Linked DNA regions of Homo sapiens. The protein of the gene in region 2 interacts with the protein of the main gene of each other region in a biochemical or structural test. Each region holds a gene or a part of one and is shown on either strand. Other genes may lie near its edges.

Evidence for each region.
Region 1: the proteins of JAM3 (region 2) and ITGAM form a complex in vitro, tested with the Homo sapiens proteins (one study listed by BioGRID).

What each region holds. Positions count from the first base shown.
Region 1 is NC_000016.10:31,315,846-31,328,335, forward strand, and holds part of ITGAM (integrin alpha-M isoform 2 precursor), read left to right. Parts: intron 1-5,395; coding exon 5,396-5,526; coding exon of another isoform or gene 5,527-5,530; intron 5,531-5,618; coding exon 5,619-5,782; intron 5,783-8,553; coding exon 8,554-8,708; intron 8,709-8,805; coding exon 8,806-8,937; intron 8,938-9,112; coding exon 9,113-9,186; intron 9,187-9,417; coding exon 9,418-9,559; intron 9,560-9,654; coding exon 9,655-9,777; intron 9,778-11,010; coding exon 11,011-11,090; coding exon of another isoform or gene 11,091-11,133; exon of another isoform or gene 11,134-11,154; intron 11,155-12,301; coding exon 12,302-12,385; intron 12,386-12,490.
Region 2 is NC_000011.10:134,061,464-134,073,948, reverse strand, and holds the start of JAM3 (junctional adhesion molecule C isoform 1 precursor), read right to left. Parts: upstream 4,878-12,485; 5' UTR 4,866-4,877; coding exon 4,790-4,865; intron 1-4,789. UniProt on the Homo sapiens protein: Junctional adhesion protein that mediates heterotypic cell-cell interactions with its cognate receptor JAM2 to regulate different cellular processes. Plays a role in homing and mobilization of hematopoietic stem and progenitor cells within the bone marrow.

The DNA.
Region 1 (12,490 bases), on a different chromosome or scaffold from region 2:
TGTTAAAAAGACTGTCCTTTCCCCATTGTATGCCCTTGGCACCTTTGTTGAAAATTAGTTGATTGTTGGCCGGGCGCGGTGGCTCATGCCTGTAATCTCAGCACTTTGGAAGGCTGAGGCGGGTGGATCATGAGGTCAGGAAATCGAGACCGTCATGGCTAACAAGGTGAAACCCCGTCTCTACTAAAAATACAAAAAATTAGCCGGGCGCGGTGGCGGGCGCCTGTAGTCCCAGCTACTCGGGAGGCTGAGGCAGGAGAATGGCGTGAACCCGGGAAGCAGAGCTTGCAGTGAGTCGAGATTGCGCCACTGCAGTCCGCAGTCCGGCCTGGGCGACAGAGCGAGACTCCGTCTCAAAAAAAAAAAAAAAAAAAAAAAAAAAAAAAAAAAAAATTAGCCAGGCATGGTGGTGGGCACCTGTAGTTCCAGCTACTCGGGAGGCTGAGGCAGGAGAATGGGGGAACCTGGGAGGAAGAGGTTGCAGTGAGCCTACATCATGCCACTGCACTCCAGCCTGGGTAACAGAGCAAGACTCCGTCTGGAAAAAAAAAAAAAAGAAAAGAAAATTAGTTGATTGTAAATGCATGGGTTCATTTCTGAGCTCTGTATTCTGTTCCATTGGTCAATGTCTCTGTTTTTATGTCAGTGTCATGCTGTTTTGCTGAGTATACCTTTGTGGTGTATTTTGATGTCAGGTAGTGTGATACCTCTACCTTTGTTGTTTATGCTCAAGATTGTCTTGGATATTTGAGGTCTTTTGTGACTTCATATTAATTTTAGTATTGTTTTTTCTATTTCTGTAAGAAATGCCATTGGGATTTTGGTAGGAATTACATTGACTCTATCGATCACTTTGAATAGTATGGACCTTTAAAAATATTCTTTCAATCCATAATATGGGATATCTTTCCATTGATTTTTGTCTTAACTTTCTTTCGTCAATGTTTTATAGTTTTAGTGTGCATATTTTTCACCTTCTTGGTTAAATTAACTTGTAAGCATTTTATTTTTTGATGCCATTGTAAATAGGATTAATTTCTTTTTCAGATAGTTTGTTGTTAGTGTATAGAAACAAATAATTTTTGTATGTTCATTTTGTATTCCATGACTTTACTAAATTTGTTTATTAAATTTGATAACTTTTTCGTAGAGTATTTATAACAAGTTTCTTATATATAAGATCATGTCAATTGCAAACAGGGACAATTTTTTTTTCTTTATTTCTAACTTGAATGCATTTCTTATCTTTTTCTTGCCCAATTGCTCTGGCTAGGACTTTCAGTACTGTGTTGAAATAGAAGTGGTGAGTGTGGGCATCCTTGCCTTGTTCCTAATTTTAGTGGTAAAATCAAATTTTCACCACTGGGTATGATGTTAACTAGACACTTTTTTTAATGTTCTTTATCATGTTGATGTAATTTCCCTGTATTTCTAGTTTGTTGAGGGTTTTTAATCATGAGTGGCTATTCCTGTGGCCTGAATGTTTGTGTCCTCCCCAGATTCATATGTTGAAGCCTAATTCCTTGTGTGATGGTATTTGTAGATGGGACCTTTGGAAGGTGTTTAGGTCATGAGAGTGTGGCCATCATTAATAGGATTAGTGCCCTTAGACAAAAGCAAAATGATGGTTGCCTATGAACCAGAAAATAGGCTCTCACCAGATATTGAATCTGCTTGCACCTTGATTTTGGATGTCACAAGTCTTCAGAACTATGAGAAATAAATTTCTATTGCTTATAACCCATCCAGTCTATGTTATTTGTTATACCAAATAAGCTAAGACAGATGTTTAGTTTTATTAAATGCTTTCTTTTCTTATTGATAAGATCATGTTATTTTTATTCCTTATTCTGTTAATGTGGTGCATCACATTTATTGATTTGCATATGTTGAGCCATCCTTGCATGCCAGGAATAAAGCCCACATGGTCATGGCGTATGACCCTTTTGTGCTATTGAATTCAGTTTGCTAGTATTTTATTTAGGATTTTGGATCTATGTTCAATAGGGAAATTGGCATGTAGTGATCTTTTCTCATGGTGTGTTTGTTGGGATTTAGTGTCAGGATAGTGCTTGCCTCATACAATAAGTTTGGAAGTATTCCCTCCTCTTCAGTTTTTTGGATGAGTTTGAGAAGAATTCATATTAATTCTTATTTAAATGTTTGGTTGGTAGAATTTGCCTGAGAAGCCACCAGGTCCTGGGCTTTTCTTTGTTAGGAGGTCTTTGATTACTGATTCAATTTCCTTACTCATTATAGATCTGTTTAAACTTTCTATTGCCTTATGATTCAGGCTTGGTAGGTTGTATATTTCTAGGAATTTATCCATTCCTTCAAGGTTATCAAGTTTGTTAACATATAATTGTTCATAGTAGTCTCTTAATGATCCTTTTTATTGCTATGGCATCAGTTGTATGTTCTTTCATTTATAATTTTACTTATCTGTTGTTTCTGTTTTTTCTCCCTTTTTCCTTGGTCTACCTAAAAGCTTGTCAGTTCTTTTTTTTTTTTTTTTTGAGATGGAGTCTCACTCTGTTGCCCAGGCTGGAGTGCAGTGGCATGATCACAGCTCACTGCATTCTCCACCTCCCAGGTTCAAGTGATTCTCCTGCCTCAGGCTCCTGAGTAGCTGGCATTACAAGCACGTGCCACCACACCTGGCTGATTTTCGTATTTTTAGTAGAGACAGGGTTTCACCATGATGGCCAGGCTGGTTTTGAACTCCTCATCTCAGGTGATCCACTTGCCTCGACATCCCAAAGTGCTGGGATTGCAGGCGTGAGCCACTGCACCTGGCCAAAGCTTGTCAATTCTATCTTTTTGAAAAATCAACTTAATTTCATTGATTTTTTTCTATTCTCTATTTGATTTATTTTTCTGTAATCTTTATTATTTTCTTCCTTCTACTAACTTTAGGTTTAGTTTGTTCTTTTATTTCTCATTTCTTGAGGTGTAAAGTTAGGTTTTGTAATTGAAATTTGTCTTTTTGTTTTAAAATTAGGTGTTTATCCCGAACTTTCCTTTAGTACTGCTTTTGCTGCCTCCCATTAAGTTTGGTATATTGTGTTTTTGTTTTCATTTATCTCATGTTATTTTCTAATTTATTTTTTTATCCATTAGTTGTTCAATGGTGTATTGTTTAATTTTTACATATGTATGTTTTTTTCCAGTTTTTCTTCTGGTATTGTTTTTAGTTTCATTCCATTGTGGTTGGAAAAGATTCTTGATATAATTTAAATCATTTCAAATTTGTTAAGACTTGTTTTGTGACCTAACATGTGGTCTGTCCTGGGGAATGGTCCATGTGCACTTGAGAAGAATGTATATTCTGCAGTAGTTGGCTTGTGTATTTTGTATATGTCTGTTAAGTCCATTTGGTCCATTCTCCCTTGGGTTTTTTTTTTGTCTAGTTGTTCTATTTGCTATTGAAAGTAGGATTTTGAAGTTTCTTACTATTGAATTGCTGTCTATTTCTCCCTTCAGTTCTGTCATTATTAGCTTTATATATTCAGATGTCTGATGGGTGTGTATATAATTAATTGTTGTAACTCCTGGTGAAATGGCCATTTCATCATTATATAATATCATTATTTGTTTTTTGACTTAAAGTCTATTTTGTCTGATATTAGCATGTCATCCTGCTCTCTTTTGGTTACCATTTTAATGGAATAGCATTTTCTACTCCTTTACTTTTAGCCTATGTGTCAGTAAATACAAAGTGGGTATCTTGTAGATAGCATATAATTGGATTTTGTATTTTTATTAATTCTGCCACTCTGTTTTGAGAGTTTGCTTCTGTTTACATTTAAAGTAATTATTGATAGAGAAGGATTTACTACTGCCATTTTGTTAATTGTTTTCTGTTAGTCATGTAGGTCTTTTGTCCCTCTTTTCTTCTCTTGCTGTCTTCCTTTGTGTTTTATTGTTGTTAATTTTTGTATTAATATGCTTTCATTTTGTTCTCTTTTTGTACTTTTTTTTTTTTGAGACGGAATCTCATTCTGTCACCCAGGCTGGAGTGCAGTGGTGCGATCTCGGCTCACTGCAAGCTCCGCCTCCCGGGTTCAGGCCATTCTTCTGCCTCAGCCTCCCGAGTAGCTGGGACTACAGGTGCCCACCACCTCTCCTGGCTAATTTTTTGTATTTTTAATAGAGATGGGGTTTCACCACGTTAGCCAGGATGGTCTTGATCTCCTGACCTCGTGATCCGCCCACCTCAGCCTCCCAAAGTGCTGGGATTACAGGTGTAAGCCACGTGAGCCACCGCGTCTGACCCTTTTTTTGTGTATATAACTTCTAAAGGTATTTTCTTTGTGGTTTCCACAAAACATCTCATAATTATCATGGTCTATTTTAAGCTGATAACAACTGAACTTAAATCACATGCACTCTATACTTTTATTCCCCACTACACGTTTTACGTTATTGATTCACAATTTACAGTTATTTATATTGTGTATCCAGTAACATAATTTTAGCTATAGTTATTTTTAATATCTTTGTCTTATAACTTTTATACCATAATTAAAAGTGTCCAATTCACTTGCATTAAGGACATGACAAAATCACTTTTAAAATTTCTTTAAAATTTATTATTTGGCTGTCATTTTTTTCAATATTACTCTTGCACATACTTTAAAGAGTCAAAATAGTTCCAAAAAGCTCACTATTAAAAAACAACAATTTCCACATACACGATGGTTTTGGCTTCATTTCCCTTGCTCTTGAGGGAACCACTTTCAGCTCTTTCAATTCTCTATTTGTTCCAATTACATAATAATAATTTTGCTACTTTTTGATTTTTGTTTTACCACTGACTTCCCACCATGGAAGGTGGAGATTGATCTCTTTTTCAGTTTTCCTTTTGCCACATAGTAGCACTCTTTTACCCCCCATTCACGCCTCATGTTTATGTGATCATTTTGTTTAGATCAACATTCAGTGTTTGCATTATTCTGACTACGTAAATGAAATTCAGCTGAGCCAAATAATATACTTTTACTTTTCCCTGTATGCAGGGAAATGCAGGTAATTAATAGAAATTGGGGTTGGGCGTGGCGGCTCACACCTATAATCCTAGCACTTGAGAGGCTGACAGGGCAGAATCGCTTGAGCCCAGGAGTTCAAGACCAGCCTGGGCCACAAAGTGAGACCCCCGTTTTTATTTTAAAAGTTTTTTTAAAAAAGAAATTGTAGGTATCCTCTTGAGGTTGTGGTCTAAAGGTGAATAATTCCTTGATAAGTTCTAAGCTGTCCTAGTTCCTTGGTTAGTTGCAAGAGATGAGACTTGAGTAGAGCTTAGAGAACCTCTGTCTGGGCCATGCTGGATGACTGAGTTATACATCTCCTGTCTTTCCTACCCCTTTCTCTCTCCACACCTCTTTTTTACCCTCAGCGGATAGCAGGCTCCAAGCTCTCTCCCAGGCTCCAGTATTTTGGTCAGTCACTGAGTGGGGGCCAGGACCTCACAATGGATGGACTGGTAGACCTGACTGTAGGAGCCCAGGGGCACGTGCTGCTGCTCAGGTGAGAATGCCTTTTGGAGTCAACCGGACATTCTCCCTTGAAGGAATGTTTCCTGTTTGAAGGTCCCTGATGGTTTTCTGGTGTCCCTTTAGGTCCCAGCCAGTACTGAGAGTCAAGGCAATCATGGAGTTCAATCCCAGGGAAGTGGCAAGGAATGTATTTGAGTGTAATGATCAGGTGGTGAAAGGCAAGGAAGCCGGAGAGGTCAGAGTCTGCCTCCATGTCCAGAAGAGCACACGGGATCGGCTAAGAGAAGGTGAGGCTTGGTGGATGAGTCTCAAGAGGTTAAACGACCGAGGACATGAATGGGTGCTGCAATCCACTCTGCCCAGCCTTCTGGCTGTCCTGAACTGAGTTCTCACAGGCTCTGACAACCTTCTCCAAGCCTTACCTGAGTGAGCAGGCTATTGTCCTGCTGGGTAGGGAAGTCCAGTGGACCTCCCTAAAGAGGTGAGCATGTGGCACTTCCTTACTCACTCAGTTCTCCAGAGAACTGAAGGCCCCATGCCTGTGAACAAACTATGTTTTTGTTTTTTAATAAACGGAGAGAAAACCTATTTGGGGAGATTGAATTGATGAAGCTAAACAGAGATTTACAAAGCACTCACATACGCATTTTATCACCAGTGACTTCTTCCCTTGTTCCTATTCTCAAAGAGTAGAACTGTGTTTGGGGTGGGAGAATAGTAATGACAATACTAAGAATAACTGTCTCTAGTAGTGACAGCACTAGGAATAACTGTCTCTAGTAATGACAGTACTAGAAAGAATTGTACCCTCTTTAAAAGTAAAATTATTAGCTAGGCATGATGGCATGTTCTTGTAGTCTCAGCTACTTGAGAGGCTGAGGTGGGAGGGGAGGATCACTTGAGCCCAGGAGGTTGAGGCCAGCCTGGGCAACATAGCAAGACCCATCCCTAAAAAATGATTACCTTTCTAGGAACAGTTTTCCTGTGCTGAGGAGATAGCATTCCAGATATGAGAGCAGCCAGCATGGCTAGAAATTAAGAGCAAAATGTTAGAGAGTAGGGAATTGAAGAAGAGGTACCCTTAAACCTACATAGAAGTCCCCCTCTACTCTTTGGCTGACTCTTAAGACACGAATGCCTAGGTCAGTACTCCAAGACACCCAGTAGAAAACAGCAACTGAAAAGCCAAAGAGCTGATCAGAGAATTCAGCAGCTCCTCAGTGCTGGGGAGACAGAGATTTGAGAGGCCTTGGTAAATACCTTGGTCTTTCCATTGAGACAACTGACTAGCAACCAAGAGAAACAATATACAATAGAAATAGACCCACAGGTGATTCAGAAATTAGAGTGATTGGATAGGAATTTTTAAAAGGTAACTATAATTAATATCTTCAAGAAAAAAGGGAAAGGATGAGAACTTCAGCAAAAACCTGGAATTCATAAAATAGAGTCAAATGGAAACTCTAGAACCAAAAATCGCACTGACTGAAATGAAGAATTCAGTAAATAGATTTATAGCAGATTAGAAGCAGAACAGAGAATTAGTGAACAAGAAGACAGTCATTTGAAAGTATCTGGATAAATATGCGATAAAAAGAAAGAAAAATACAGAAAAACACCATAAGAGATGTGTGGGATATGGTGAAAGATCTAACAAACATGTAATTGGAATTACAGAAAGTGGTGGTGGGGGAGGAGAGAGAGAGAGAGAGAAAGAAAATAGGAAAGATGGAATAGGAAAGACAGAATAGGAAAGATGGAATAGGATGGAATAGGAAAGATGCAGTAGTTAAAGAATTTCCCCAAACTGGCCAGTCACGGTGGCTCACGCCTGTAATCCCAGCACTTTGGGAGGCCGAGGCAGGTGGATCACCTGAGGTCAGGAGTTTGAGACCAGCCTGGCCAACATGGTGAAACCCCATCTCTACTAAAAATACAAAATTAGCAGGTGTGGTGGTATGCGTCTGTAATCCCAGCTACTCAGGAGGCTGAAGCAGGAGAATTGAACCTGGGAGGCGGATGTTGCAGTGAGCTGAGATCGCCCCATTGCACTCCAGTCTGGGTGACAAGAGCGAAACTCCATTTCAAAAAAAAAAAAAAAAATTCCCCAAACTGATGAAAGACATCAAGATTCTTTACAAAATCAAAGCAGGATAAATATGAAGGACATTATATCATTGTACGTTATAATCAAACTGCTGAAGACCAAAGACAAAGAGAAAAAAATTTAAAGTAGTCAGAAAAATACAATAAATTTTTTAGTGAGTGACAGAATAGCTACCATTTATTGAGCACTTATTGTATAAAAGACACTGTGCTAAATACTTGATAAGCACTATTTCATTTCCTTTTTACCATTGGGAGGGTATCATTATTATCCTCACTTTAAAAATAAAGAATGGAGGCCAGGCGCAGTGGCTCATGCCTTTAATCCTAGCGCTTTGGGAGGCTGAGGCAGGTGGATTACTTTGAGACCAGCCTGGCTAACATGGTGAAACCCCATCTCTACTAAAAATACAAAAATTAGCACGGCGTGGTGGCATGTGCCTATAATCCCAGCTACTTGGGAGGCTGAGGCAGGAGAAACGCTTGAACCTGGGAGGCAGAGGTTGCAGTGAGCTGAGATGGCACCACTGCACTCCAGCCTGGGCAAGAGAGTGAGATTCTGTCTCAAAAAAGAAAATAAAAAATAAAAAGAAAGGAAGGAAGGAAGAAGGGAAGGAAGGAAAGGAAGGAAAGTAGGAAAGGAAGGAAAGGAAGAAAAGGAAGGAAGGAAGAAGGGAAGGAAGGAAAGGAAGGAAAGTAGGAAAGGAAGGAAAGGAAGAAAAGGAAGGAAGGAAAGGAAAGGAAAAAAGGAAGGAAGGAAGGAAAGGGAGGAAGAGAGCGAGGAAAGAAAGAAAGAAAGAAAAAGGAAGGAAGGAAGGAAAGAAGACTCAGAGAAGTCAGATAACATACCCCAAGTCACACAGCTGAGAAGCAGAGGAGCTGGGCCTTGAACTCCCATCTGCCGGGTTCCGAGGCTCAGGCCCCTCACTGCTGTGCCACCCTGTCCCTTCAGGACAGATCCAGAGTGTTGTGACTTATGACCTGGCTCTGGACTCCGGCCGCCCACATTCCCGCGCCGTCTTCAATGAGACAAAGAACAGCACACGCAGACAGACACAGGTCTTGGGGCTGACCCAGACTTGTGAGACCCTGAAACTACAGTTGCCGGTGAGCAGGCTAGTGGCCAGACCCCTGGGTCTTCCAAGCATGGAGTGGGCTTGGGGAGCTGAGGAGGGCAGATCCCCAAATCCCGGCTATCTCTTAGAATTGCATCGAGGACCCAGTGAGCCCCATTGTGCTGCGCCTGAACTTCTCTCTGGTGGGAACGCCATTGTCTGCTTTCGGGAACCTCCGGCCAGTGCTGGCGGAGGATGCTCAGAGACTCTTCACAGCCTTGGTGAGTCCAGAGTTGGGGTCCTGCAGGGGTGTGGAAGAGACCAGAGACCAAGGTGGTTGAAACTCATTTTATTTGATTGCATCTAATTTTACTTCAACATTTGATTTTATTGTTTAATTTCACAATACTTGGTTATTTTCTTTCCTTTCATTTGATCATATTTATTTTTTAAAAGTTTCCCTTTGAGAAGAATTGTGGCAATGACAACATCTGCCAGGATGACCTCAGCATCACCTTCAGTTTCATGAGGTGAGTTTCCTTTCCTCCTCACCTCCTCCAGAGAAGGACCCGTACCATGACCCGCTCTTTTCTCCTCCTGGCCCCCAAGGGAGCCGGGTGTTCCTGGGCTATAAGGTCCGGTGTGGCTGCCCCTCCACTGTTGTCTCTTCATCAAGTGTCTGCGTCTCTGTTCTGCTGGAGCAGGCTTGCCACAGGGAAGCCCAGCGCCCCATCCCCCGGCCTGTCTTCTTCTTCCCACAGCCTGGACTGCCTCGTGGTGGGTGGGCCCCGGGAGTTCAACGTGACAGTGACTGTGAGAAATGATGGTGAGGACTCCTACAGGACACAGGTCACCTTCTTCTTCCCGCTTGACCTGTCCTACCGGAAGGTGTCCACGCTCCAGGTAGCCACATCCTTCTCAGGCTCTATCTGACCTTTGCTTCCCCATCCTCACGGCCGGAGGTGGATATCACCGCCTTTGCCTCCCCTGCCTTCCAGAACCAGCGCTCACAGCGATCCTGGCGCCTGGCCTGTGAGTCTGCCTCCTCCACCGAAGTGTCTGGGGCCTTGAAGAGCACCAGCTGCAGCATAAACCACCCCATCTTCCCGGAAAACTCAGAGGTCAGAACTCCTGGCTCCTCCCCTCCTTTTCTCTTTGATTTCTTTGGGGATTCTTTTCTTCTTCTTCTCTTCTTTAGTAGTGGTTCCTTTTTGTACAAAACAGCTTTATTGAGATATAATTCATATACCATCCAATTCACCTATTTAAAGCATACATTTCAAGCCCGGCACAGTGGCTCATGCTTGTAATCATAGCACTTTAGGAGGTCGAGGCAGGAGGATCGCTTGAGCCCGAGAGTTTGAAACCAGCCTGGGTGACACGGCGAGACCCTGTCTCTACAAAAAATGTAAAAATTAGCTGGGCGTGGTGGTGCACACCTGTAGTCCCAGCTACTCGGGAGGCTAGGGTGGGAGGATCGTCTGGGCCTGGGAGGTTGAGGCTGCAGTGAGCTATGATCACACCACTGCACTCTAGCCTAGGCGACAGAGTGAGACCCTGTCTTGAAAATAAATAAAATGAAATAAAATAAAATAAAGTATACAGTTCAGTGGCTTTGAGTGAATTCATAGGGTCTTGCATCCGTCATCATGATCCATTTTGGAACATCTTCATTACCTCACAAAGAGCTTCTGTTCCCGTTGGCCCTCAGCCCCAGTCCTCCCATATCCCCCAGCCCTATGCAACCACTAATCTACTTTGTCTATAGATTTGCCTATTCTGGACATTTCATATAAATGAAATAATCCCGTATGTGATCCTTTCCCTAGCATAATATTAAGCAAGGACTTAGCAAGGATCATTCATGTCGTAGTATATGTCAGTACCTCATTGCTTTAAAAAAATTGTTTTTAAATTTTTTATATATATTTTTGAGATGGAGTTTCACTTCGTTGCCCAGGCTGGAGTGCAGTGGTGCAATCTTGGCTCACTGCAACCTCTGCCTCCCAGGTTTAAGCAATTCTTGTGCCTCACTCTCCCAAGTAGCTGGGGTTACATGCGCCCGCCACCACACCCAGCTAATTTTTGTATTTTTAGTAGATACAGGGTTTTGCCATGTTGGCCAGGCTGGTCTCGAACTCCTGACCTCAGGTGATCCACCTGCCTCAGCCTCCCAAAGTGCTGGGATTACAGGTGTGAGCCACCGCACCTGGCCTTCATTGCTTTTTATTTGGTGAACAATATCCTGTTGCATGGATGGGCCATATTTCATGTCTCCATTAATCAGATGACGGGCATTTGGGTTATTTTTTCTCTCATATTTCTGTCATTGTCTCTCCTTTCTCTCACTCCAGGTCACCTTTAATATCACGTTTGATGTAGACTCTAAGGCTTCCCTTGGAAACAAACTGCTCCTCAAGGCCAATGTGACCAGGTGCTCTCTGCTACCAGGCTTCTGCAGGCAGTTGCCCGTCTGACGCCCCAGCCCCTGGCCCATGGTGGGCCTTTGCCCTTTGCCCACTGGTTCTCCCTTCAACTCATTTGTTCACTCAGCAAACACTCACTGACCACCCACCACGTGCTGGGCCTTGTGCTGAGTGCTGGTGGGATGGTGGTGGATCAGACGATAGTGGTTCCTGCCCTCTCGGAGATGATAATTTAGTGGCAAAGACAGACAAGAAATCTAGCCATTAATCTTGCATCCATCTCAAATCCAGTATGAGATGCAAGATTAGATGGGGGACGGCCAGTGTTCTTGGGAGTTTGGTGTTCAGAGAAGATTCCTAAAGAAAATATATTTAGGAGCTGGGCGTGCTGGCTCAAGCCTGTAATCCCAGCACTTTGGGAGGCTGAGGCAAAACAATTGCTCGAACCCAGGAGTTCAAAATCAGCCTGGACAACATATCAATACCCTGTTTCTACAAAAAAAAAAAAATACAAAAATTAGCCAGGCATGGTGGTGCATGCCTGTAATCCCAGCTACTCAGGAGGCTGAGGCACAAGAATTGCTTGAGCCTGGAAGATTGAGGCTGCAGTGAGCTGAGATGGTGCCACTGCACTCCAGCCTGGGCAATAGAGTGAGACCCAGTGTCAAAATAATAATAATAATAATAATAATAAAAAATAAAAGGGAAAAAAAGAAAATATATTTAGACAAAGCAAAGGCATGAACTGAGGGCGGGCATGAAGACAGAAGGCAGGAAGCAGATACCAGGGACGGGAAGATCAGGGTGTGTTTAAGAGTGGCCTCAGCATGAAATGCAGGGCTGAAGGAGTTGGTGGTGGTTAGATACAGGCCATGTCCCAAAATGACTGACGGGTGTTGTTTGGGATTTGCAGTTTCGCCTCTGGGAGTGACATAATCATATTTGCATGTTAGAACGATCACTCTTCAGGAGGGCTGGCGATTGGGGTGGGAGCAGGTGTGAATTCAGGGGACCAGTTAGAAGAAGGTGGTTGCAGACATCCAGCTGGAGAGGGATGGGCCTGGGCTAGGCGGGGGCAGGGGTTGGAGAACAGTGGGGTTTCAGATGCAGAGATAACAGAACTTGGTGGCTGATTGGAGGCAGGGAGTGAGGGAGAGGGAGGAGCAAAGACTAACTGTCAGTTCTCAAGAGCCGGCTGGAGCTCTTTCTTTCCCTCCAGTGAGAACAACATGCCCAGAACCAACAAAACCGAATTCCAACTGGAGCTGCCGGTGAAATATGCTGTCTACATGGTGGTCACCAGGTGCTGGCTTCCAGGACTTTAGCTGAGCCTCCACTTCTGGGCTGGACATGGCTGATTGTGCATCTGTGTGCATGAGTCTGTGCATGTGTGTGTGTGTGAGAGTCT
Region 2 (12,485 bases):
TGTAGTACAAACTGACACTTTTCCAGAAGTTCCTAGGGCCACTAGAAATAAGACATTTTTTTAAAAATGCCTCGACACAAAGAGAGTGTTTAAGAAATGTTAACTCACTTTCAAGTGACAAAGTGAGATAAACTGAATATTTACTAGAATCACCTCTGGAAAGATACAAAAAAATTAAATTCAGCCTCTGTTACCAACAAAATGTTTATTATCATTGAGAAAATACAATGCACTGACACCTAACAACTAAAGCCCAATGTAAATCGGAGTCAATTACCCTGGCTCTTTAAGGACTGGCGATGTTTTACCCATTTTGCAACCCTAGCACACAGAACAGTGCCTGACACGTCATAGATACTCAATAAATGGGTGTTGTACTAAACTGAACTAGAGACTATGATCTAAGCTTATTTAGAGATAGGAAGGATCACTGTGGGCTGAGGTTGTCAAACATAGCAGATAGCATGACTATGGCAGAATTTGATTTTGGCAATAATTTTCAGGAAGAAGGCTGAACCATAGAAACCTTGGGAAACTGCAAATGAAAGATAATGTAAGAAAAAATGTTCATATAGTCCTAACTCTATTAAATAGTTTGATGTCTTTATACAAGCAGCACTGAAACCTCTGCTGTATGTATTAACTACTCATGGGAAATGTAATATATAACACATAACAAATACTACTTAAAACCAAAAGAAACACACCAACACAAAACACTACAGCATTCCTGGGACATCAGAAACAAGGGCTAACTCTCAGGAAGCTTTCTGTGTGCCATGCCAAGAAGCAGAGAGACAGTCAATTAAGGCTTTAGCTCTCCATATAGAGTACCACAGTGGATACTGTCCTTGCTAAACTAGGTGTAAAAGAATGTGCTTACCAAAACTTTCTTTCGGGATCGCTTTACACTCCAGTGAAGCTATTTGCATATACTGCTAGAATTCTGAGAGTACATGCAAAGATCTGAAATTTGCATTCAACTTTGACAGCATAACATTCACACCACCTGACTATAAACATCTTTTTTTTTCCCCCAAGACGGAGTTTCACTCTTGTACCCCAGGCAAGAGTGCAGTGGCGCAATCTCAGCTCACTGCAACCTCCACCTCCCGGGTTCAAGCGATTCTCCTGCCTCAGCCTCCAGAGTAGCTGGGACTACAGGCAAGCACCAGCACGCCCGGCTAATTTTTGTATTTTTAGTAGAGACAGGGCTTCATCATGTTGGCCAAGATGTTCTTGATCTCCTGATCTTGTGATCCGCCCACCTCGGCTTCCCAAAGTGCTGGCGTGAGCCACTGTACCCGGCCAACTATAAACATATCTTAAAAGAGAATCCAGCTGGGCGTGGTGGCTCACGCCTGTAATCTCAGCACTTTGGTAGGCCAAGGCGGGCAGGTCACTTGAGGTCAGGAGTTCAAGACCAGCCTGGCCAACATGGTGAAACCCCATGTCTACTAAAAACAATAAAAAAATTAGTCAGGCAAGGTGGCACGCATCTGTAATCTCAGCTACTCGGGAGGCTGAGGCAGGAGAATGGCTTTAACCTGGGAGGCGGAGTTTTGCAGTGAGTTTTGCAGTGAGCTGAGCTCATGCCACTGCATCAGAAACTCAGTCTCAAAAAAAAAAAAAAATCCAACTTCACCACTAGGGTATTCTTCAGCAGACTCCATACATCCTAACTTCATTCACACATATTTTCCTTTCTTTTACTACATTTGTGCTTTTAAAAAATTCAAAGAATTTATGGAGAAGGAATTTGCTAATACCACATCTCTAACAGCTGCTAGTCGAATGTACTAAATCCATAGCTGCGTCTGTTACATTATGTGGCCATCTTATACTTGAGGAAAGTCTGGTTGCTTTCAAAAGAACTGATTTAAACCCACCCCATGGAGTTTAAGAACAAGTTCCATGGAGCTTAGGGGTTGTGTGGATAATTCTGCCTGAATGTAATACTGCAATTACTTATGATTAAGTATCTCTAGTACTTATCCATTCAGTCTCCTTAGCCTGAAGCACTGAAGAACAAATGCCCATCAACAAGTCATGTGGGAATGAGCAGCTGATATAAAGTACTGCATGCTTTCAAGACAGGTGTTCTTTGTTTTTTTTAAAACATACACACAAGTCTGACAATGATTATATCTGCCAGATAATTAAGAATTAGAACATAAAAGAATATGCCATTCTAAAAAACGTTACTGGAGTCCAAACAGATGCAAATAAAAGAATTAAACATTTTTTCAAAAATTTCCCAGAAATTTTGATTTTCAGATTTTGATATGCTTCAGCACACAAGTTGTCTTATCTGAAGAATGAAAACTGTTGCTGTTTTAATTCTAAATAAGGCACTTCTCTCTAGAATATCAAAGATTTGGAAACCTAACACTAATGAGTACACAATCATTCAAAAAAGCCATGTGGCATAACATTTGTAAAGCTGAACTGCACCTGTCATGAGTCAACAAAAGAATATTTTATATACAAACCACATAGTGTTGAAAACTTGATAATCTGTTTAAACTGATCCATTAAAAGAACTCCACCGTCAAATGGAATAATACAAATAACTAAAAATTGGATTAACACAAATAATGAAGGATTTCCCATTTAAAACGCACAGGATAACACTCCCGACAAGGGTCTGAATCTCTCCATACTTCTGTTCCCTCATCCACAAAAGGGCACAACAATAGTAACGACTTCTTAGAGTTATCAAGATTAAATAAATTAGCAAACATTAAATTCTTGTAACAGAGCCTGGCAAAGGGTAACCACAAAAGAAATGTTTGCTGTTATATCAAGAACCAAAATTTTTAAGATGAAAATAAATAGTAATAGCAATTGAGAATAATCATAAAAAATAAAAAGGACACAGTAGTCATGACTTCTGGAAGAACAGTTTTAGGGTAGCTTAAAGCATAAACCAAATAATGGAAAAAGAGCCCCTACTAAAAAAAAGATAGCTACACGCCTTCAAAGTGGATTCATACATCCTACTACCTCGATTATTTGTCATTAGAACTAGTTTGCAAAATTTGATTCTTCCTCCTACGCTCTGCATGTGAATCCCAGCCCCTACCAGCAAAAAAGCCACAAAACTAGTCCCTTAGGGGAAGGAAATCAGAGGTTAAGGGTAAGTGAAGCTCTTTGCATTTTCTAGTTTTATTAACAAACTACCAAGTTGAAATTCATTCCTGAGCTAAACTGCCAAATGCTTCTGCAACAAAAACTGCAAACTTTCACGTGAACAGATCTTTTCAACAATAGAGAGTTGTTCCAGGCTGTGAATAGGACAGTGTCAGTGTGACCAACACAGCGGGTGCTGGACATTCCTGACACCCTTGTCCCCTGGCTAGCCTTTGATCACTTATCTCCCAACAGCATTTGGTTTTGGGAATCACTTTCAGGCAAAGTATACAGACTTTGCCTTAGCGTACATAATCTATACGCTAAAACTCATCTTTTGTCACAGCCCATCACGAGCATCCCATTAGCATAAAGCACCAAACACAGGAATGCTTTGTTTTCCAAAATCTGTCCACCTTCACTCCTAAACAGTCCCTCCGTGTTTTAATTTGTATATTCTGGAAAACATCATGGGATGACAGTGGCAATTCAAACAATAAAATAATCTAAGAACCGAAAAAGGTCCTGGTCTGGTTACCTGCGGATGGCTGCCAGGGGAAGAGTGTGGTGTCCTGCTTTAGGTAAATATGAAGTTGAGGCTTCACTACTTAGAATGCAGCCTTGGAAAGCAGACTAGACTTGACTCTGAAAATGGATTAATGAAACCTATCTCACAGAGCTGCTGAAAGGAGTAAACGAGATAATGGCTCCAAAGTGCCTAGTAGACAGTACAAGCTCACTAAAGGAAAGCTATTTTAGTCCTCTGTACAACTGTCCAGGAAAATGTGGATCTAATGAGAATTCCAAACAGAGGGAAAGAAAATGCACAAAACTATCAAGTTTATTAGTGTGTCTTGATCAAATGCCCCGAATGCTATTTCCGGATAAGAGTCTGCGTGGTCTCCTCGGCCAGGCCAGAGACAAAAAAGGTACTGGATTGATATCCATTTTATTTCTGTAAAAGAAAAGCAGTTCCTTTGTGTCGAGTCAAATGAACTGCAGATCCCCAGAGGGCTGTGACCAAGCAGCCCGCCAGGCCTCGGAGCTCTGCCTCGCCGGTCCTCAGCTACGTCCCCCGCTCACCGTCCCTTCTGGAGAGCACAGCACTGCTGCGCAGGGTCTTCCAGCAAGTTCCAGCGCCCACGCCGCAGCTGCCGCGCTCCCTCCAGAGGGCCGTGCCCACCGCCCGGGAGGGGTCCACCCCGGGGACGAGCCCACCGCCCAGCACAGGACCCCGCCTGGGAGGAGCCCACCCGGGGGATGAGCCCACCGCCCAGCACAGGACCCCGCCTGGGAGGAGCCCACCCGGGGGATGAGCCCACCGCCCAGCACAGGACCCCGCCCGAGAAGAGCCCGCCCCCGGGGTCCGACGGCTGTCCGGGACCGACTCACTGCCTGGGACGGGCCCCCCATCCCAAATTAGCTCCCCGCCCCGGTCCAACTGCCGGGCGTCCCAGGGCCCCCGCCCTAGCCAGGCCCGAGTCCCAGCCCTGGCTGCGGGGACGCGGGCGCGCGCCGCCCCTCCGGCCCGGGACCCCGGGAGCCCTCGGAGCCAGGACCGCTATCCTCGCCCGGACCGGCTCCAGCAGCTTCGGCCCGCTCTGCTTCCGTCGCCCCCAGACCCTAGTCTCCCAACAGCGGAAACGCGCAAACTCACCCCTGAAAAGCAGCAGCAGGAAGAAGTCAGGCAGCCGAGCGCAGAGCCGGAGTCGCGGTGGCCGCCTCAGCGCCATGTCGAGGGTTGCTGAGGGGCCAGCGGCAGCGCGGCGCGGCTTGTAGTCCCCGCGCGCATGCGCCCAGCCTGCCAGGACCCTGCGACCCGCCCCAGTTACCATGGCGACCGCCGGGCCCAGCCGAGCCGGCACCATGGTGACAGAGGAAGCTGAGGTCTAGCTGCTTACGGATGCAGCGATGCTCTGGACCGGCACATGGGTTCTCTTTCAATGAACTTGGCGGGAGGAGAGTAAAGAAGTATGTACAAGAGTGAAGCAGGGTATATTTCCATAGCTATAGAATAAATCCATCACAACAGGTCGGAGAAGGAACACTCCTTTAAAATTTGGGAAATAAAGTATTTCTTATTTTACAAATAAGGATGCAGCCCAGTTATCTTGGAAGCATTATCGCCTTCACATCTTTTGGGCCCCCAATTCCAAATTGATGGAAGGAAAAGAGCTGAAATCTGCTTAAAACATAAGCAATACATACATTATACAGCATATAAAAGTGATGTCTTGCTAAAATAATTTGTTTATGTGGTAGATCAAAAGCATGATGGCATACCCAATAGTTTATTCTGCAGAAAAGCAGACTAATTATTTGCTCTGATTTCTGAATACTGGGAGATAGTAAAACCAGGGAAGAACAGGTAAGATGAGGACAAACAGGAAAAATGAAGAGAAGGATAAATTAAAGCAGAAATTAGATCTAAAAAAGCAAGAGTATTTAAAGTCTCACTTAATACTATGGAAAATACTTGAAAAGCTTGTATTTTAGCAAGTATAGAAAGTACACCTCCAATGTTCCCAGAAACAGCAGTCTAGCAACAGAATTCTGAATATAATTGTTAGTAAAATAAGCCAGTTTCCAACTAATATTTTTAATGTTTAACTTTTTCATATACTCATGCTACTTTTTTAGTATTTTTAGTTTTCATGCAAAATAGAAGTATATTTACATATTATGTATACCAAATTTATATATGTAAAAGCCGGGAAACGTGAAATAGATTGAGATTGTTGCCAAGAATATGCTTCAGTTTCCATCACTGTATAATCTTCTTTGTAAATCTTTATAACTGCTCAGATCTTTATGTTAATTGATTACCTTCTCAAAAATCTTATAAAGACAGAATAAAAATTAAAAAATAACTCAATTACCTACTATGATTCTGTCTTTCCTTTCATAAATCTTCTTTATGTTCCAGGTCACCATGCACTAAATCACAAGTAAAAGTGTGTAAAAGTTGTTTTATAATGGTGGCCTCTTTCCCTTTATCAAGCACAAAATCGAGAAATTAAAAAGAAGAAAATTCGTCTTATGCCCACTGACATTTTTTTCTGCCCTCTGTTTTCCCTATTATTCCCTTTAGCTCCTGGTCACATGGCCAGGCATATTTACCTAACTGAAGGAACTGTTTGGGTTACTTGGAAATGTGAGATGGTGTCTGACTGTGGACAGAGCACGGTTTTCAAAAACCAGTGCCTCTTTTCTCCTGCGGAATTTTCAGTGTTTGCGTTGTAAAATGGTCTATCTGTTAAATGGTCTTCCTGCTAGGGAATCTTTTGAAACTCAGACCGAGATTACAAAAAAGGGCTGCATGAATATTCTATAAGGGGCAGAGGTTCCTAGGAGAGTGGATGGCAGGTGCTTCATTGTAAGACATTGATTTTCCTCTGCAGATGGAGTCGGCATGTCATTACCAACAGCTGAGACAGTTCCTGGAATGGAAGTCTAACTAGGGATGCAGCAGAGTGGGGTAGGACACACGTGGCTGTGAAGTGGTCTGCTCTTCCTTAGGGTTTCATTGTTCCCTGGAGAGCTCTGACCCTGTGCAGAAGGGAATCAGAGCTCAATAAGGCCAGCAGCAAAGTCCTGGAAGCATTCCGTGAGCAGGGCTGAGGAGGCTCTGCCTCCATCACAGCATTACTCATCTGAATATGCTTATTTCTAAGGTGTGGCTTACTAGGGAGACATGCACTTCTTAAAAGAGCTCGGGGAACTGAATGTAAACCAACAATAAAATGCTAAGCCCTGGCCAGGCGTGGTGGCTCACGCCTATAATCTCAGCACTTTGGCAGACCAAGGAGGGAAGACCATGAGGTCAGGAGTTTGAGACCAGCCTGACCAACATGGTGAAACCCTGTCTCTACTAAAAATACAAAAATTTGCCAGGCATGGTGGCAGGCGCCTGTAATCCCAGCTACTCGGGAGGCTGAGGCAGGAGAATCACTTGAACCCGGGAGGTGGAAGTTGCAGTGAGCCAAGATTGCGCCACTGCACTTCAGCCTGGGTGACAGAGTGAGACTCTGTCTCAAAAAAAAAAAAAAGCTAAGCCCCTCAACAATCTGAAATGACCCCTCCTCTCAGCCAAAGGCACTGCAAAGTTAACCTGAAAAACTAGTTTAAGCCATGATCGGGGAGTTGGATATGCCTTATTATACCCTCCACCCTTTTGGAATTCAGGCCAACTGACCAGCATCAACATTAAAACAGATCTTAAGACTGATAGGGCCAGGTGCGGTGGTTCAGGCCTGTAATCCAGGCCCTTTAGGAGGCCAAGGTGGGCGAATCACCTGAGTTCAGGAGTTTGAGACCAGCCTGGCCAACATGGTGAAACCCTGTCTCTACTAAAAATACAAAAAATTAACCAGGCATCATGATGCATGCCTGTAGTTCCAACTACTTGGGAGACTGAGGCAGGAGAATCGCTGGAACCCAGAAGGCGGAGGTTGCAGTGAGCTGAGATCGTGCCACTGCACTCCACCTGGGCAACACAATGAGACTCCGTCTAAAAACAAACAAACAAAAAAGACTGATACAACAGACTCTCTCTCTCTCTCTGAAGCCTGTTACCTGGAGGCTTCATCTGCATGATAAAAACTTGGTCTCCACAACCGTTATTCTAACACAGACGTTCCTTTCTTGCTTGCTTTTTTTTTGTTTTGTTTTTTGTTTTTGTTTGTTTGTTTGTTTGACAGGGTCTTACCCTGTCACTCAGGCTGGAGTGCAGTGGCACACAATCGTGGCTCATGCTTGAGCCTCAACCTCCAGGCTCAAGCAATCCTCCCACCTCAGCCTCCTGAGCAGCTGGGACCACAGGTGTGCGCCACCATAGCTGGCTAATTTTTCTACTTTTTTTTTTGGTAGAGATGGGATCTCACCATGTTGCCCAAGCTGATCTTGAACTTCTGGGCTCAAGTAATTTGCCCGCCTCAACTTCCCAATGTGCTGGGATTACAGAAGCGAGCCACTGCCCCAGAGCCAGACCAGACCTTCCTTTCTATCAGAATAATCTTTGAATCTGCCTATGACCTGAAATCCCAACCCCACCCACTTATAGTTGTCCCACCTTTCTAGACAGAACCAATGTACACCTTACATGTATTGACCGATGCCTCATGTCTCAAAAAAAAGAAAAAAAGGAATGTGATCCATGACTTCTGTTCCTTTACTATGCTATTCTAGCCCTGAACAATCATCTGAAGTCAACCCGCATCGCATGAGAGAAGTGGGATCCTTTGACTAATGGAAGTCTCTGACCTCAGAGTCCTTCTTTAAAGCATTCTTCTTCAGGGCTTTTCAAAGACCTGGGTATGTTTCTGTTTCTCCATCTCTCCTCTCTTTAAGTCCCATCTTCCTCACAATATTTTCAACTATGTTATCCCACATTTTATCTCAACTCTTATCCCCTGCTTTTTCCTTCAAAGTATTTCTTTAATTTTATTTAAATAGGAAAACCTTCTCCCACCTCCCTCTAAGGAAACAGTAGCAGACAAAACTTCCATCTTCTCCAATAACATATGCCGCTTGTGGTCTGCAAAAGAAGAAAAGTTCTTCCGCAGTTCGATCTATTTGCACATTTCTCTCCTTTGCTGAAAAAGTTTATATACCAATGGCAGATTTTGGTCAAGTGGCTTCCTAGAGAGAGGCTTTCATAAGCAGCTATTTAATAAACCTTTTGCATTTCACCAAAAGAAGGCTAGGTGTTCGTGTGTGTGTGTGTGTGTGTGTGTGTGTGTGTGTCTTTCAGTAGAAATATCATACATGCCAGGAGTTAAAGAGAGTCACACCCTTATGCTAGGGCAGGAGTTAAAGTATCCTGGTGGTATCTCTATCAGCCAAGGGCTCTTTACTGGTGCACCTTAAAACACAACAGGACAACCAACAGTGGACAATAACACAAGGAAAGCCCTTGACACAGAATCGCTTCCCTAGGGCTGATGTTCCTGGGAATTTCTCACTTCAGGCCCCATGAAGAATATCACCCACTCTGCCTGTGTCAGGGTGTCTGCCTCAATTCTTTCTTTGAGGATGTGGAGAAGCAGGTGCCCCTGCAGACACCAAAGAAAAGGTGTCTGAGAAAAGATGTCTGAGATAGCCAGTAAACAGCAGTCCCCAGTCACCTTCCAGGAGGGATCCCTGTGATGACATAAAACAGACCAGCATTTTTTTACCCTCTTCACCTGACTTGTTGAATATTTGCCCTGGCCTGGGGAGAAGGTGAGAAGCTGTTTTCTGGACTGTGCCTCGGGGCTGAGGACACTGATGAGCCTCAGGGACAGGTATGCCGCCTTCACTGGCTTCCGGTGAGGTCCCGGAGCGCCCGCTGCTTGTGGGTTGGGGCTGAGACGATCTGGGTGGGGTGGCCCACAGGGTACCTGCAGCACTCTGGTGCTCCAGTTCTGTGCCTCCAGGATGCTCCAACTACTTTGTTTACAGATGGGAGATATTTTTATTCCAGCCCTCCAATTAGAGATAATTTTCTCTTCACACAAATTACACCATGGAGTGTTTACTTCCTGGCGGCACCAGTGAGAGACCTGGGCCTCCGCTCTTTTCCCTCCTCTGCTGCTGAGATCTTGCACTTTACACAGAGTCCCGGCCAGGGTCAACCCTCGGTTTCAGGGCTTTGGAATGGGGAAAGCTCTTCCAAAGAGCTCTGGGCCAGGCATTTGACAGAGCAATTTATGTGACTCAGAGCTTTCCAGGATGGGAAGGACACTTTTTAGTGGTGGCCACTGAAGAGGTTCTGGATATCCTGTTCCAGGACTGGAAATGGGGGGACATAATTTGATTTCCTAGGTTTCTAACGTGAAGAGGGTCATTCCACAGGAAACCTTTTCCCCAGAAATTATTCAAGACCATGCCCCTTGAGCAAGCAGATAAGAGCTCTGGATAAGACTATAGTTAAGGCCGGGCGTGGTGGCTCAGGCCTGTAATCCCAGCACTTTGGGAGGCCGAGGCGGGCGGATCACGAGGTCAGGAGATCCAGACCATCCTGGATAACACGGTGAAACCCCGTCTCTACTAAAAATACAAAAAATTAGCCGGGCGTGGTGGCAGGCGCCTGTCGTCCCAGCTACTCGGGAGGCTGAGGCAGGAGAATGGCGTGAACCCAGGAGGCAGAGCTTGCAGTGAGCCAAGATCACACCACTGCACTCCAGCTCGGGTGACAGAGCGAGATTCTGTCTCAAAAAAAGAAAAAAGACTCTATACTTTGTCTTTAATGCCATGAAATTATATTCCCATGAAATTTTGGATCAGGAGGAGTGGACGTATTTGGTCCTCTTGGGTGATTCTCAGAATCCTGAAAGCACTCAAGACACTCAGTGGAGACCTACTCCAGTGCGGATGGCCACACACCCCATGAAGGACAGAGAGCTTGAATCCCACATCTGCAAAGGGCACCTATGCTTCTGCAACCCTTACACTCAGAGGTCACACCTTAGTCCATTTATCTTCCAGGCAATATGTTGTTTTCCAGCCGGGCATTGTTCCCTAGGTTTGCACTGTCCCTGTGCCCCAGGCCTACCACCAGCTGCTGCCCAAGACAGAACACAGGAAGGAAACAGGAAACTCTGCTGAGCTTGGAGGTACAAGATTCTCCTTGTGCACTCCCCACAGGGAAGGAGTGGCCACCCCCACCACCACTGGCCCAATATCAGCTCCCTCATTTTTCATCTGGATTGTTAAAATGATCTGTAGGTATGTCTTCCTGTATCTAGATGTTTCTTTTCAAAACTGTGACTAGGGCCTAGAACAGTAAGAGGTGCTCAATAAGTATCTCTGGAATGAATGAATATAAGACTCCTGCGCCCTGCAGAGCTAACATCTGCTCACGTCGTGCTGCTTGAAATTCTTGGCACCTTCAGCATGTAGCTAACACCCCTTAGTACAGCAGGCCCCGACGTTTTCGGCACCAGGGCCCAGTTTTGTGGAAGACAAGCTTTCCACGGAAGGGTTGGGTGGGGCAGTGTTTCCGGATGAAGCTGTTTCACCTCAGATCATCAGGCTTTTTAGTTAGATGCTCATAAGGAGCGTGCAACTTAGATCCCTCATGTGCGCAGTTCGCAAAAGGGTTTGTGCTCCTATGAGACTAATGCAGACCTGGCAGGAGGCAGAGCTCAGGCAGTCATGCTCTCCTTCCCACCCCTCACCTCCCGCTGTGCGGCCCAGCTGGTAACAGCTACCTGTCCACGGCCTGGGGAGTGGGGACCCCTGCCTTAGTACGACTAAAGAAGTCATGGATGAAAAAACACACCCTATGTTCCTGAGCATCACAACTTCCGCATCTCATACCACCCCCTCATCTACTGCCTTGAATCTAGCTCCGCTGAGTCAGCTGTGGTTCTTAAAACTTGCCAGGTTCTTGCGAGCCACTGCAGTTGCCAACGCAGTCCTTGCTGCCTGTATTATCCTCCCCGTCAGCCTGGTGTCGCTGAAAAGACTCAAACTCGGTAAAACATTTGAAGAGATTTATCCCGAGCCAAATATAAGTTACCATTGGCCCATGATGCAGCCCGCAAGAGATCCTGAGAACAGGTGCCCAAGGTGGTCAGGCACAGCTTGCTTTTAGACATTTTAGGGAGACAGCAGACATCAATCAATACATGTAAGATGTCCATTGGTTTGGTCTAGAAAGGCAGGACAACTCGGGGATTCCAGGTCATGGGTAGATAAGAGACAAAAGGCTGCATTATTTTGGGTCTTTAATCAGCCTTTCACTGAAATCACAACTTACATGTGAGAGAGGCGTAGAGGAATAGTCATGTATGCCTTAGTCCAGCTCAGTGAATCTGCATTTTTACATAAACAATAGAGCAGAAGAAGCAAACAGATATGCATTTGTCTCAGGTGAGCACAGGGATGACTTTCTATCCTGTACCTGTGAAGATGAGCTATCAATTTACATGGCCAAGGTGAAATTCAACAGAACTATTTTTAGAGTAAAGACCTTGAGGCCCACAAGGAATTTCCTTGTGGGCAGATTGTGAGGGAGGTATGTATCTTTAATATCTTTATAGCTATTTATTTAGGAACAAAACGGGAGGCAGGCTTGCCTGATAGTTCCCAGCTTGACTTTTCAGCTTAGTGATTTTGGGGTCCCAAGATTTATTTTCCTTTCACACTAGTCAGTTTCCTAACATCACCATGTCCTCTTGGAACCCCTTTCAGCATCATATCCTCATGGTAGAACTTCCTGGCCCCAGAGTCCCCTCCAGGATGGTTTGGGTGGACCTCCTGTGTGCTTCTGTAACACTGTGGGTGCGTCTCTCCCACACTCCATTGCATTGGATTGTAATTCCATATTTTTACTGTGATTCTAGTTCAGACTTCTAGAGTCTAATGCT